Regions from separate parts of the Homo sapiens genome. Here all the other regions are reported to be linked to region 1. The links are microRNA targets in miRTarBase. Many come from high-throughput screens and were not tested one by one. Region 1 holds a microRNA gene; each other region holds the end of a gene's coding sequence.

Evidence for each region. The annotated mature microRNA hsa-miR-139-5p reads UCUACAGUGCACGUGUCUCCAGU and lies in region 1 at 3,402-3,424, shown strand. An mRNA with a match to its seed (bases 2 to 7 or 8) in the 3' UTR can be bound and repressed. Matches are read on the target gene's strand: a 7mer-m8 pairs with bases 2 to 8, a 7mer-A1 pairs with bases 2 to 7 and ends in A, and an 8mer does both.
Region 2: the mRNA of TCF12 is a reported target of hsa-miR-139-5p. The part of its 3' UTR that is shown has no 7-base or 8-base seed match.
Region 3: the mRNA of SYT5 is a reported target of hsa-miR-139-5p. Seed matches in the 3' UTR shown: 8mer at 2,723-2,730 and 7mer-A1 at 2,316-2,322.

Annotation. Positions count from the first base shown.
Region 1 is chr11:72,613,526-72,618,525 of GRCh38, reverse strand. It overlaps MIR139 (microRNA 139), which reads left to right and starts at 3,396; the gene lies at 3,396-3,463. The region is part of intron 2 of PDE2A (phosphodiesterase 2A); the gene reads left to right. LOC105369377 (a long non-coding RNA gene) reads right to left here. Exons shown (of 4, transcript XR_001748292.2): 2 at 4,224-4,434; 3 at 3,789-3,897. RefSeq lists enhancers at 1-145, 4,389-4,488.
Region 2 is chr15:57,282,011-57,287,098 of GRCh38, reverse strand. It overlaps TCF12 (transcription factor 12), which reads right to left. Exons shown (of 21, transcript NM_207037.2): 20 at 4,501-4,654; 21 at 1-942. The coding sequence ends at 4,512. Among named protein-coding and RNA genes, the nearest start is that of SNORD13D, 5.9 kb to the right of the region's middle. RefSeq lists an enhancer at 2,261-2,320.
Region 3 is chr19:55,168,983-55,174,070 of GRCh38, forward strand. SYT5 (synaptotagmin 5) reads right to left here. Exons shown (of 9, transcript NM_003180.3): 9 at 2,214-4,702. The coding sequence ends at 4,502. Among named protein-coding and RNA genes, the nearest start is that of DNAAF3, 4.9 kb to the left of the region's middle.

The DNA of each region.
Region 1 (5,000 bases):
TCTCCCTCACTGGAGGAGGGCTCTGTGCCTTGGTGCCCCACCTGCCCAGGGCCCTGTGGCTCAGCCCCTTGCTTGCTCTGTGAGGGGGACGGGAGAAGGATGAGAGTCCCAGTGATAGGGGGAGGACAAGACCAGGGGAGAGGGCTGGGGGTTTCTGGAGGGCCAGAGCAGGAAGAGCAGGAGAGAAGAGAGGACACCACAGTGCAGGAAACGGAGGAGCAAAGGCTGGGAGTGGGGAGGCTGGAGGGGTGCAGGGAATCAGACTGGGGCGCTGCGAAGAGGCCTGAGGCCAGAGCAGGCAGTGCCTGGATGGAGGGAGCGAGCAGCTCCTCACCCTCAGCTCCTTGATGAGGTAAGGTGACCACGAGCCCTGCTCCAGGCTGTGTGCTGAGCACTTTGCTCGGAGCCTGTCACTCTGGAGGAGGGGAGGGGGTGTTCCCAGGAGCTATGACAGTCTTGTGCAAGGGAGGGACAGGGTCACATTTATGTTTAACAAAGCACTGCGCTGGGAGAGAGGAGCTGAGAGACCCCGGCCCTGGGGAGCATGGTGGCTGGGACCCCGGAGGGCAGGCGTGCCCCAGACGGACCCCACTCAGAAGATTGCTTATCCCAACCCCCCAAAGAGAAAGGCTATTTTTAGGAACAATAAAAGTGCTCACACATTCCTGCAGGGGCAGAGAGAGGGAAAGGGGGCAGGAGTCAGTGCAGAGGAAGAGGGTGGACCCCGCTCTTCTCCCAACTCTGCCTTGGTCTTCAGGGACTTCTCCTCAGGGGCTTCCCCAGCCAGCCCTGCCTCTCCAGCCTCCGCCTGTCCCTGGGGTTCCCTACCGGCTCTTATGTCTATCCCTCTGCTTCTGAATTGGTACTTGTTCTGTCCCTGTCTCTCTTTCTCATACTTCCACTTTCCCCCTCCCCCTGGGGTTTGGGGAACAGCTGGGATGGGCCAAGCTCTGTTGAGAGAGCCAAATACAGTCATAGGACAAAGCAGCGGGAGGCTGTGGGATACACACATGCCGCAGAGCACAGACAGAGAGAGGTGGCCAGGCACAGAGAGAGCGCCCAGGGAGGCTGAGAGGCAGGGAGAAAACACGCTGGGACAGTCAGGGAGAGCCCCAGGGCAGGCATCACCGGGCAGCCAGCCTCTGTGCCCTGCTCTCTATCTTGTCCCTAAGAAGACCAGCATGGCTGGGCTTGCCTCCCGCCATCCACCCCACCAGCCCTACCCCAGGCTGGCCCTTCCTCCCCGCCCTCTGCAGGCCCACACTAACCCTAGGCCAGGCCGCCTCCTTCAGCATTTACCTCCCACACACAATGGGCACAGTGAGGACATAAGAGACCCAGTCTCTGGCCTGGAGGCAGATACTCAGCCTTACCCGACATCTGAGAGGGCTCAGCCCATCCCCTGGCCAAGGCAGGTATTAGAGGGGCCCCAAAGACAAGCAGGACTCTGGGACAAGGTGTCCTAGTGTGGCCCAAAGGGCTGGGCTGAAGCATGGGTCTCCTGGCTCCAGATGAGAGCCTGGGTGAATCCTTCCCTGCCTCCTCTGGCCTTAGTCTACCCCATCAAGCTTGGGATTGGACTACATGAGGCCTGAGGCCCTGTAGCCCCTGGTCCCTGGGAATTCTCAGAAGGCCTGGGAGGGGGACAGGTGACCACGCAGGAAGGCTTCCTGGAGGAGGTGTCCTCACTCATGAAAGAAGGTGATAGTGACAGTGCTCCTCTTGGGGAAGAGCCCTCCATCCTGACCTGCTGCCCCCACCCGGTCTGCACGTGGAGATGATCCTGAAGCACAAAGGGCCTCCCGGCCTGCAGAGGTGCCTGGGAGAGGTTGCCAAAGGCTCTCAGTAGGAGACACCCCATTCCTCAGGCTCCTTCTCTGAGACTGTAACTGTGCCAGACTGGGGAGGCTTTGAGAGGTCTCAGCTATCTCCCCTGCCTAGATCCTTCCTCCACACCCCTCTTCTCCCTGATGGCATGTAGCCCTCACAGTACAGTAGTCCTGGGCACACAGGAGTTTACCCAGTCATTTACAGCTCAGCAAACGCCTACCAACACCTATGAGGGGCTGGGTAATGCTGGAGACCTGGAGAGGGGCAGGACACAATCTCTGCCCTCCAAAAGCTCCCAGTCTGTTGTGGGAGCCAGACGGGAAAGGGTGGCACTGCATTGATGCACACAGTGCATGCCATGGTGGGGGAAAGGGGGGCAGTGGGAGCCCCAGGTGGGAGGGTCAGACTTGCCTGGAGAGAGAACAACAACAGACTCTCCCTGGAGGGGATCCAGAGAAGGGAGATCACTCCATTCATTCATTCGTCATTCATCCATCCACCCATTCAATTATTCCTTTGGCCATCATTTCCTGAGGGATGTAAACTCTCTTCTGACACTGACCCAGCGGGACACTCAGCGTCCTCCTCCTCTCCTGCTTGAGCCACCATGCCTGCCTCTTGGAGGCTCCTGGACTTGCTTTGCTCAGCTCCCAACCCACCCTGAGGGGGTGAGGCTGAGGAGGGTGTACAGACATTCAGGGTCACCAAACTCAGAGCTGGAGGCCTGCCACCTCACCAGGGGCCTTTCTCAGGGCACAGGCTCCCTGGTGGCAGGGCCTTGGCCCTTGCTTGCACACCCTTGGGGACTAGGAGCCCCCTCATCCATCCTGCTCAGGCTCTCTTTTGTGGCGCGACTCTGATTCACAGTGTGCCCAAATCTGCCTCCTTGTGACTGCCGCGAGCTGCCTCGTGGGCCCCAGGCCAGAGGACAAGGATAGCTAGAATGCCAGGTGACCAGGATGACTGTGATGGCATGGAGAGGGGGATGCTGTGATGTGTTTGGGAGGAAGTTTGTGGTGTCCAGGAGAATGTGGGCAGCAGAAATGGGACCACTCTCGGTTCTTCCCTGTAGATGAAGCAGCTGAAGGTGGGAGGGGGTGGGAGGAGACCTGAGCTGGCTCTGCCCCGCTTGATCTGATGTCTGCCTTGCAGGGCCATCCTCCCCCTCCCCACACTCAGCTCCTGCCTCCCTCCCTCTACCCACTCTGACTGTTCCCTCCTTTCCTGACTCCAGACTCTGGGTGAGGGACTGAGGTGATTCCAGTGAGTCAGGCCCTCAGGGAACTGATCGTGCAGGCAACTCTTGCCTGCCTTCTCCTGCTCTTTCCCTCTTCCCATTCCTTCATCCACCCCCAAACCTAGCTCCTGATGGATCCAAGGGTGCGGGGGACAACCGGGAGGTCATTTTGGAGGAGGCAGGAGCTGGAATAGAAGCTGGGACTGGCTTGGGAAGGGCGAGAGGCCGGGGCGGAGCTGGTTGTGGGCGCTGGAAGGGAGGAGCCAACAGTGTGGGGTCAGGCTCCTGTGGATGGGGACACCCTTGGGAGGCACTGGGACTGGCTCAGGTGTATTCTACAGTGCACGTGTCTCCAGTGTGGCTCGGAGGCTGGAGACGCGGCCCTGTTGGAGTAACAACTGAAGCCGGAGTCTGCGAAGGGTGGGCAGGAGGGTGGAGGGATGGGGGCATGGAGCGGGAGGGGGTAAGTAGAGGAGGGAGGGGAGGAAGAGAAAGAGGGAGGAGGAAAGGTCTCTGGCAGGTCCCTCCTTTAAGACTGGGCTCCTGCGCTGCGAGTGGCCCCGTCCATACTGCCTTGTTATCCATATCTCCCCACCACTAGTCTCCCTCTGTCCTTCCACCCCCAGCCTCTCCCCTCCATTGGGACCTTCCCTGGGGCGTCCCCTCATTGGCTGTTCTCACCTGAGCAAGGCCCCTCCCCTCCAGTCCTTAGCCTCTTCACCTGTACAATGGGATGACCCAAACAGGCACCTCTTGGGCTTGTAGGAGGATCCAAGATAGTGTCAGTGGGTCTCGAGGTGTGGTCCCCCGACCAGCAGCATCAGTGTCATCTAGGAATGTTTGGAAACGCAAGTTCTTGGACCTCGTCCCAGACCTACTGTATCAGAAACCCTGGGGGTGGGGCCAGCAATCTGCACTTTAACAAGCACTCTGGGTGGTTCTGGTGCACATGAAAATTGGGGAACGGCTGGTGGAAACCTCTAGCCACAGGAGGTGCTTGGGAAAGGTACCTTCCCCTCCCCAAAGCCTGATGCCTCACTCAAGCATGACACTGACAGTTGGGCTAGTTCAGCTGCGTTCTGGGTCTCTGTCTTGCCTCCTCCTTCAGACTAAGCCTCCCAAGGGTTGCCAAGCCTCTTTCCTCTATTCTCCTCACCCTGATCCAGCTCAGCCTCATTGAGAGAAGTCTGGGGCTGCAAGATCTTCGCACTCACAGGCAGTTCCTCTTTGCACATCCAAGGCACCAGTGTCTTTGAGAGGCGTCTCCTTGGCCAGGTGGCAGGCGTGGGTGTGTGGGGAGGAAGGAGGAGGAACCGCCTTGTTCTGCTTTCTTGTCTCTGACTCTGCAGGCTGGGGGTGCTGTAAGGCTGCGAGGAGGCATAGAGTCAGCTTGGGTGCTGGGCTGAGGCCAGGGGCCGAGGCTCAGCTGAAGCGGGCTTCTCTGGTCTGAGCCTACAGGATGCCTCCTTTGGGGCAGTTCTGCCAGTCACCCTGACTGGGCGGCTGTGCTTGCTAGTGCCAGACCCATGCTAGGCACAGAGGTCGATACGTTCTCCTGTGCTCTTGAAGGGCCCTGTCCTCTGGGAAGATAAGAGGCTGTGTATATTGCCCACCGGAACAGGAGGCAGGAAGCAAAAGAGGCGTAGATGACACTTGCCTGGCACCCCCTGTTTCCCCTCTAGCTGCCTTCCTGGGTTTCCCATTCTGTGGGCGCTTCTCTTGAGTTAGGTGCTTTCTCCCAGTGTTCTCAAGGTGACTATTTGGAGGTTTGTGGGAGGAGTGGGCTGGAGACACAGGAGTAGGTGGGGGCAGGAAGTATGCAGGAGAGAGATGGAGAGTGGGAGGAGAAGCTATGAGAGGAAGAGAGGACGCGGAGGTGGGAAAAGACGTCAAGACTCCTGGAGAGGAACAGGAGTGCAGCCTGGGACAGAGG
Region 2 (5,088 bases), not on the chromosome of region 1:
TAGATTCTTCCCTTGTAATTTACAATTTTGCTATTACAAGCTTTCCTATGAGATCTAGAAGCTTGAAAAGTCTTGGTTATTATTAGAAATAAAGCAATGTTTATTTGGGGGAAAACCTAGAGAACAAAATTTCCCCTTTTAAAATGCTAGCTAGGCTATGGTCACAGATGGTCTCTGCTTACCACTGTAAGGTAAATGTGCAAAGCACACAGGGCTGCACGGAGGAGGCTGGACTGTGACCATAAACTGTTCAGATTTAGAGATCAAATATAACACCCACAAAGAGAAAATAAAAATAAATCAAAAAATGAGAGCAAGAGAAATGCTATACCAAGTAATATTTTCCTATTTCATGGAAAACGCTATTCATATGGCAAGAGGATAGGAGAGGGCAACAAAAGACTTTTCCCTTCCTTTTTAAGACACTAATAGGTATGCCGGGAATGCTAAGGGCCAATGGTTGTCACTGCTTTGTTCTCTGCACGTGAACCGCTTTAATGTATGCTGGCATCAGCTGAGTGTAGATCAGCTTTCCACATTAACTTTTTCCCTTTATATGTAGACCTTACAGTTTCATAACAATAAATAAAATTTGTAGTTACAATGCATTTGTCAATTCAGTTTAGGCACAAGGCAACTTCCACGGTGAGTGGAGAGATCGAGACAGTCTCTGATTGTGCAGAAGCGACACACTGCTTGCAACAAAAGATTTGTTGCAAACATCTCATGGGCTGATGTTCTATCTGATGAGCTTCCTATCTTCACTTCTGATGGAAGTGTTGACCAGTTGCTTTGATCGTAGGATTACATTTGAGTTTCTTGGTTCAAGTGTTTTGTTTTTTCTTCTCCCTCCTGTCAGGTTTGTGTCTTCAGATAATCTGAGTTGTCCAAGTCCTTATGAGGAGAGGTCACCTTCTATCTAGCCTACTGATAACTCTGGAACTGTGGCAGGGACAGCCAAGGGAGAGGACAATACCAGTTAGTACATAATTGTTAAAAATAAAACACCTTCCCCCTCCCACCAACAAAAAAATGCTGGTATTCCTCATCTATATCCAGGTCTGCACTAAATTTGTAGTCTGCTAAGTGACTTAATGAACTTTTTCCTTTTAAGGTATACTGAAATGGTTTTACTTGATGTGTATGGTAAGGTTTTTTGTTTGTTTCTTTTCAGACAGTGTCTTGCTCTATCACCCTCGCTGGAGCGCAGTGGCATGATCATGGCTCAACGCAGCCTTCAACTCCTGGGCTCAAGCAATCCTCCCACCTCAGTCTTTGAGTAGCTGGGACTACAGGTGTGCACCACCACACCCGGCTATATGGTAAGATTTTTAAAGGAGATCATGCGATTACAGAATCACAAACTATAGGCGTATAAAACAGCTGCCGCAATGATGCAAACCTTCATTTTAATAACACTCAAGTTGGCAATAACTGAGCTCTGAGGTGCTACTCATTCATTCCTCAGTAGTGAGACAATGGTAAAGCCCTCAATTTGCTGCTGCCTCCACTCAACCACAGTGTTAATAGTTTACATTTATTTCATCTAAACTGAGAGCACCTGAGGTCAGAGGCTACCTTGCATTCATTTTCATATTGGTCCCAGTTCCTGGTCCACAGTAGGTCCTCAACAAATGTTTGCTATTTATTAAGAATATTTTACTCTATTAGTACAAATTCTATACATACTTATGTTCCCAATATAATATATATAGCAGTAACTCTGAAATTTTCTACTTTAAATTTTTAATAAAATAGTTTTAGATAGAATCATAACTTTTACTTCCTTATTAAACAATAACCACAGTATTGTTTAGGTACACAGCAATGCTCTTAGGGACGGAAAACTAAGATATTCAAAGCTACTTGGCCTACATTACAGGATGGCAAATTTTTGTACGTTTATAACCAGTCATTCTGTGGTCATGTCTTAGCCATTTTGATTCTAGTAGCATTGTTCCTGCTGCCCTGTCTCTTGCTACTTTTAATCTGCTATCCAATTTATGAAACCAGATAACTATCTTTATGAAATTAGCAACCTTAACACATATTCTAAGATGACAAACACTAGCCTATACAATCTATGGAACAAAGTGCATTCACTACATGTCTCATATCTTGATGCCTTTTTAAACTTAAAAGAATTCTTGATCCTTTTTTGATAGGTGGGAATGCCCAAAGTTTAATTTTAACCTAAGTGGGAAAATTTCCACATTATAAAGAGATAAAGGTAGAGCTATGAGAGCAGTATGAAATAGAGAAGTAGTAAAAGCACAGGAAGTAAACAGAAGGAAACGAGATGAGAATAAGAAGACAAAGTTGAACGAGTAAGAGAGACTGAGAAGAAAACAAGAGGAAATGGGTAGAACTAACTAGAGCGAGACAAGAAAAATAAGACACAGGCTCCAAGAGAAGTGTTAGGGCAGAATGCCTAGTGCTCTTTTTCACAGCTTGGTGGTTATCTGGGACCTGAGCATAAGTTACCTCTCCCATCACTCTTCTTTGAAATAATCTATCAGTTTAGAAAGTCTCTTTTGCACTGAGAAATAGTGGCATGGTTTTATTTTAAAACTTCAAAGTTAATTTTTTGGCCGGGCTCAGCGGCTCACGCCTGTAACGCCAGCACTTGGGGAAGCCGAGGTGGTCGGATCGCTTGAGGTCAGGAGTTTGAGACCAGGCTGGGCAGCCTGGCGAAACGCTGTCTCTACTAAAAATACAAAAAAATTAGCTGGGCGTGGTGGTGTATGTCTGTAATCCCAGCTACTCAGGAGGCTGAGGTGGAAGAATTGCTCAAACCCAGGAGGCGGGAGTTGGAGTGAGCCGAGATGATCACACCATTGCACTCCAGCTCAGGCGACAGAGTCAAACTCCATCTCAAAACAAACAAACAAACAACAACAACAACAAAAAAATCCCAGAACAAACAAAAAAACTTCAAAGTTTATTTTTGAAGCAAAAATACTTACTGTTTCATAGTAGTCTATATTTTCTACAGAGTATGAAACAATGATCTAGGTTTTAGAGGATCTGTAAACTAGCTCTTGCCTAAAGTCCCTGACATGTACAATCTGTTAGATTGCTGGATACTTTTTGTGGGGGAGGTAGTTTGAGGTTTTCTCCAGTGTGCTAATGTTACAGTTATAACTGACTTACGAAATAACTGCCTTAACTCTTCTTTTCTTTTACCCTAAATGAAATCTTCTTTGTGGTCTGGTTTGACCCTATATGTAGTCTCATTTGACCCTATATGTAGTCTCATTTGACCCTATATATGTAGTGGCGGTAGGAACTAAAACCCTCAGGAAAAGGTGAGTTACTAATATTTGTAGTTTATCTATCAAACAATCTATCAAATTCCAGACTTTCAGTTCAAAATGAGACAGCCACGAAACTGACCAAATGAAACTGCACTTGATATTTTTTTCTGTTCCACACCCCGCACTCATCTGCCTTTACTTACTACCTTTAATCTGTTGATAAAATTGGGAAAAAAACTACATACTGCTGAAAGCAGATTATAAAAATGAAGTTACCAGCTGGGCGAGGTGGCTCATGCCTGTAATCCTAGCACTTTGGGAGGCTGAGGCGGGTGGATCACCTGAGGTTAGGAGTTCGAGACCAGCCTGGCCAACATCGTGAAATCCCATCTCTACTAAAAATACAAAAATTAGCCGGGCATGGTGGTGCACACCTGTAATCCCAGCTAGTCTACTCGGGAGGCTGAGGCAGGAGAATTGCTGGAACCTGGGAAGCAGAGACTGCAGTTAGCTGAGATCGTGCCACTGCACTCCAGCCTGGGCAACAGAGCGAGACTCTGTCTTGAGGAAAAAAAAAAAAAATCACAAGGAACTGAATTATGTTTAGTCCATGAAAAGGAAGATATAAAGAACAGTCTTTGAACAAGTAAAATTCCACCAGAGAGAAGGGCATTCTGGCTCTAACATATATAATAACTTCCCATTCATTAATAGATTCTAGAGGGTGTTAACTGATGTGCTTGCAAGTGGGGAAGAAGCATCATATCATAAACTTGCATTATTGATCCAAATACAAGTGATAACTTTTTCATGTATAAAGGCTTCATGACAAAAAGCTAGATAATTGGCAGAAAACTGGTTGATGATATAGTCAGCATTTCTGAATAAAGAAATGAAGAACATGAGTGGTAACAAGAGCGTTTTCTGACGGTTGAGTCATTGTACTATTTCTTCTTGGATCAGGAAGATACTCATGTAAGAGAGTACACATGATGACTCCGAACAGAAGAACCAAAGTCACAAGATACTGCCACACTTTGAAGAAAATGGCAATTTGCTATAAAATGACACTGGCTCTCTAAGTCTGATAATGTAACAGAAAGACAAACTGTTATATTTCAAATTACATGTGACCTTTACAATGGCCACTGCTCACTAGAGAATTCTGTTCAAAGATTCTAACCCAGTTTAAGATGAATCTTAAGGTTATTTCCTTGCTGTTTCTTTTCAAACCCGTACTTACCTGGCTGATGTTTACATATGACCCATAGGGTTGGTAGTTTCACTAAGCCCAGGATGGGTTCCTGGCAGTGTGGTTGGCGGCTCTGCCGATACGGCAGAAACTTTTTCTTCTTCCCTTCTCTTAAGGCAGGCTGCTTTGGGGTTAAGGTTCCTCTCTAAAACAGGGGGAAAGAATTTTTATCACTATGGTTTTAAGTTATGAATTAGGTCTCAAGCTGAACAAATTGCTGTTGTTTTGTGTAACTTCATTCCCATACTAAGTACCATCACATAGAAGAAACAATGTGCTCACATAAAACCTCAGCATTGAACTGAGCCTCCAGATTTATACTTCTAAGTGACCATCTTGTGTTTTCTTCATTTTTTGCTTATGATTTAGTTTTCTAGGGTTTGATTTGATTTAAATCAAAATGCTACTCTTCACTCAAACATTTTGGCAAATGCTGTTGTTATTAGGCTACCAAGTCTCTTCAATGTCCTACTAAGACACGGTACACTGAATTGACATGAATGCTGACATCTTGTACTTAGAGAGAGACACCTGTGCTTTATCTAAAATGTTACCAGTTCAGAAAAGGATAAAGTAAGA
Region 3 (5,088 bases), not on the chromosome of region 1:
AAAGCGCTAGGATTACAGGCGTGAGCCACCGTGCCCAGCTCCAGCGATTCTTTTTTATTTTTAGTAGAGACGGGGTTTCACCATGTTAGCCAGGCTGGTCTCGAACTCCTGACTTCAAGAGTTCCGCCGGCCTCAGCCTCCCAAAGTGCTGGAATTACCGGTGTGAGCCACTGCACCTGGCCCAGAGTGATCTTAAACATAAATCAAATAATGTCTCCCACCTCTTCAAATCCTCCAAAGTCTTCCCGCTGCACCTGGACACATTCCCCGCTCCTTAGCTTGGCTCCCTATGCCCTATGCAATCTGCAGTCATCCACCCCTGAAGCCACATCAGCCTCCTGGCTCCTTGGAGAACACACCAAGCCGTTTGAACCCCAGGGCCTTTGCAACTTGGGATTCTTTTGCCTTAAATTATCTTCCCCCTCATCTTTGTTTTCTATATATTTATTTTTGAGACAAAGTCTTGCTCTGTTATCCAGACTTGAGTTCAGTGGTGTGATCATAGCTCACTGCAGCCTCAACCTCTCAGGCTCAAGCAGTCCTCCCACCTCAGTCCCCTGAGTAGCTGGGACCACAGGCAAGTGCCGCCATGCCCGGATATTTATTTATTTATTTATGTAGAGAAAGGGTCTCACTAGTTGCCCAGGCTGTTATTTATTTACTTATTTGAGATGGAGTTTCACTCTTGTTGCCCAGGTTGGAGTGCAATGGCGCTATCTCGGCTCACTGCAACGTCCACCTGCCGGGTTCAAGCCATTCTCCTGCCTCAGCCTCCTGAGTAGCTGGGACTACAGGCATGTGCCATCACGCCCAGCTAATTTTGTATTTTTAGTAGAGACAGGGTTTCTCCGTGTTGGTCAGGCTGGTCTCAAACTCCCGACCTCAAGTGATCCGCCGGCCTTGGCCTCCCAAAATTCTGAGATTACAGGCGTGAGCCACTGCGCCCGGCTGTATTTATTTATTTATTTATTTAAGGCAGGGACTTGCTCTGTTGCCTAGGCTGGAGTACTCCAGCCTGAAACTCCTGGGCTCAATCGATCCTCCCACCTCTGCTCCCCAAGTAGCTAGAACTATAGCCACGTGCCAGCATACCTAGCTAACTTTACAAATTTTAAAAATAGAGAGGTTATCCAGGCTGGTGTCTAACCCTGGGCCCCAAGCAATCCTCCTGCCTCCCAAAGTGCTAGGATTAAGGCATGAGCCATCGTGCTTGGCCTTGTTTTCTTTTTAAATTGGTGTAAAACACACACACTATTAAGTTGATTGGGAATGACATTTAGTACACTTGCAATGCTGTGCAACCATCACCACTGTCTAATTCCAGAACTTTCTCATCACTCCAAAAGAAAACACGTACCCCATTTATCTCCCCATTTCTCTCTCCTCTGTCCCTGGCAACCACGAATCTACTTTCTGTCTCTATGTATTTGTCAGTGCAGGAGATTTCTTTTGGATGGAATACTGCACTATGCAGCCTTCTGTATCCGGCTTCCTTCACTTGGCATAATATTTTCAGGACTCATCTATGCTGAAGCATGAATCAATGCTTTCTTCTGTTTTTATGACCAAATAATATTCCACTGTTGTTCTCCCTAACCTTTGCAAGCTTCGTTCCTTCTTGTCATTCAAGTCATGGCCCAGACCGCACCTCCTCAGCAAGGCTGCCCCTGACCACCCTCCCTAAGTTATGTCAGCCTTTTTACGTTTTGGTCCCAGTGTGGACGGCCATTTGTAATGGTTTTATTCTTCTATCGCTCTGCTTTCTTGTTGAGACAGAGACCCAAGGACCCCATTGCCATCATCTAAATCAATCCCAGGATTTAGAGACAGGCTCTCTGGCTGTGTGATTCTGAGCATTTCACAGGAATTCTCTCTCTCTCTCTCTCTCTCTTTTTTTAGATGGAGTTTTGCTCTTGTTGTCCAGGCTGGAGTGCAATGGCGCGATCTCGACTCACTGCAACCTCCACCTCCTGGGTTCAAGCGAGTCTCCTGCCTCAGCCTCCCTAGTAGCTGGGATTACAGGTGCTTGCCACGACACCCAGTTAATTTTTGTATTTTTAGTAGAGACAGGGTTTCAGCATGTTGGCCCAGCTGGTCTTGAATTCCTGACCATAGGTGATCCGCCCACCTCAGCCTCCCAAAGTGCTGGGATTACAGGCGTGAGCCACTACGCCCAGCCCCAAATTTTCTAAAGCACAGTTTGGACTCATTTGTCAACTGGGAATAATGATCATGTTTATTTCATGAGTTTGCTGTGAGGATTATTATTGGCAGTAATAGTAGTAACATAAAGGGCTGTCTTCATAAAGACATGCTCTACAGCCACACACACACACACACACACACACACACACACACACACACTCACACACATGAAAAGTTACTGAATTCCTTTGGAGAAAAATTAAAAATCTCATGGATATTATAATCTGTGTAGCTGTTCTATTTTCACTTTCCCGATTGGCTACCAGGAAGCTTAGGAGCAAGTAAGTTTGTTTGCTGCCTCCTTTTTTGGTACGTGGGGGTAATTTTTGCCTCATTCTCCACTTAATCTGCTGCTCAGAGAGTTCTCTGGCCAAATCTTATAGGTCTTTGTTCACCACCCAAAATTCTGTATGGGATGAGATAAGGTAGAAGCCAATGGAACTATCATCTTTGCTAGAAACAGAGTAGGAGGCAGCATTCGTTGAAAGAACAATGAGGTCAGATGCGGCGGCTCATGTCTACAGTCCCAGCTACTCACACAGGAGGATTGCAGGAGTTTGAAACCAGCCTGTGCAACATAGCAAGACCCCATCTCTAAAAAAGAAAAGAAAAGAAAAGAAAAAATTAGCTAGGCATGGTTGCATGTGCCTGTGGTCCCAGCTACTCAGGAGTCTGAGGCAGGAGGATCCCCTGAGCCCAGGAGGTTGAGGCTGCAGTGAGCTATGATTGCCCCACCGCACTCCAGCCAGGGTACACAGAGAAACCCTGTCAAAAAAAGAAGAAAGAAGAGGCTGAGGCAGAAGAATCGCTTGAACCCGGGAGGCAGGGGTTGCGGTGAGCCGAGATTGCACCATTGCCCTCCATTCTGGGCAACAACAGCGAAACTCCGTCTCAAAATTAAAAAAAAGAAGAAGAGAAGAAAAGAAATAGAAAAGAAAAGAAAAGAAGAAGGGCCGGGCGCGGTGGCTCACGCCTGTAATCCTAGCACATTGGGAGGCCGAGGCGGGCGGATCACGAGGTCAGGAGATCGAGATCATCCTGGCTAACACGGTGAAATGCCGTCTCTACTAAAAATACAAAAAAATTAGCCGGGTGTGGTGGCGGGCGCCTGTAGTCCCAGCTGCTCGGGAGGCTGAGGCAGGAGAATGGCGTGAACCCGGGAGGAGGAGCTTGCAGTGAGCCGAAATCGTGCCACTGCACTCCAGCCTGGGCGACAAAGTGAGACTTCATCTCAAAAAAACAAAAACAAAAACAAAAAAACAAACAAACAAAAAAAAAACAAGAGAAAAAGAAAGAAAAGGAAAGACAGAAAGAAAACAAAAAGGAAAAAAGAAAAGAAAAAAGAAAGAGGTGAAGTTGAAATCATTGGCTTTCCTTGCTGAACTCCAACCTCTCTCGCAGGCTCTGGAGATTGTATTCCCTGGCTCCGCGCCTCTCCTTTGTTTTGATGGCAGTAAGTCGCTTGGGGGGTCAGGTCTGTGTTTGGATATTCTGGGGCCCCAGCACTCAACAGAAGACCTCAGGGAATATGGAATGGAAGGAAGAAAAAAAAGAGAGGGAGGGAGGGATGCAGAAATGGGTATGAAAATCGATGTGAGTCATGGGTGAGCAAGCGAGTGGATAAATTCATGGACAAGCAAGGGAGTTCTCGCGGACTCCTCACAGCCAGCGTGTGGCAGGAATTATTATTATCCCAACATTCTCCAGAGGAGGAAACCCAGGCTCAGAGTGGTGAGTGAGGAATGAACGGGTGAGAGTGTGAGGGAGTCCATGGGGTCAGGCCAGTCTCTCAGAGGCTTTCAGGACGAACAGCACTCACACCGCCCTGCGAGCGCCCATTCCTGGAAACGAGGTTTCCTCTTGGGTCCCAGCCCTTGCCCACCCCCATCAAGGAGCATGGGCCCAGGCCACCGGAGCTGCTGAATATTTATTTGGCCCCAGGAGCAGTGCAGGGATGGGCTGTGTTGGAAGAGAGAGGAGAGCAGACGAGGATGGCTGATTGTCAAAGCAGGGGGCAGGACCCGGGGGCAGGAGAAACCAGGCTGCCTTCCCTTCCCGGGGTCCCTGGGGCATCTGGGTGTGTCCGCGAGGGTCGGGGGAGTGTGCTGGAAAGTTGTCGTGATTGGCATCGTTGGGGGTGAGAAGACAGGAATGGTTCAGATGGTTGGGGTGGAAGGTGGGGGGAGGGTAACCGTCAGAGGAAGCTTAAGGGTGGGGCTGGCTTGGCTTTGGCCGGTCTCGGGAGTCTGGGGTCAGGGGCTAGAGTCCAGGCTTGGCCGGGGGCTTGGGGTGGGAGTCAGGGCGCAGGCAGCAGCCTCACTCGGTCCGGGGGCCGCAGCGAGTGCCACTGGGCAATGGGCCGCCGCGGGTTGGCCAGCATGTCCGCCCAGTGCCGCAGGCCAGCCCCGCCGGCGGCCGCCCCCACGGCCACCCTCCCGATGGCCTCGTTCTTGCCCAGCTTGTCGTAGTCCAGCACGGTCAGCTCCACCTGCACCTTCTGGGGTGGGCGCGGGAGGAAGAGGAGAGAGGAGCGTGAGGGGAGGAGGCCCCGGAAGGGGCGGTGTCCGTTTTCACGGCTGAGGGTACCTCTCGCTGCCACCCGAGGGCTCGGGGCCCCGGAGCTCGGGACGGGGGAGGGGGTGGGAGACGAGAGGGACGGAGCCTGCGGCGAGGAGGAGGCTCTGGCGCCTTTCTTCCTGCGCAGCCAGGTTTCTAAGGAAATGAACCCTCAGGACTCGGTTGCGGAGCGGGTGTGTTCGGCGCCTCCTGGGGGAGCAGCCTCCTAAGAGCCGCAAAGCTGCAGAACTTTAACAGGGGCCGGGCTAGGGTAGGCGCCGTCCCTAAAGAAGTGAGGGGAGGTCTCTTTTTCTTAGAACCACGTTC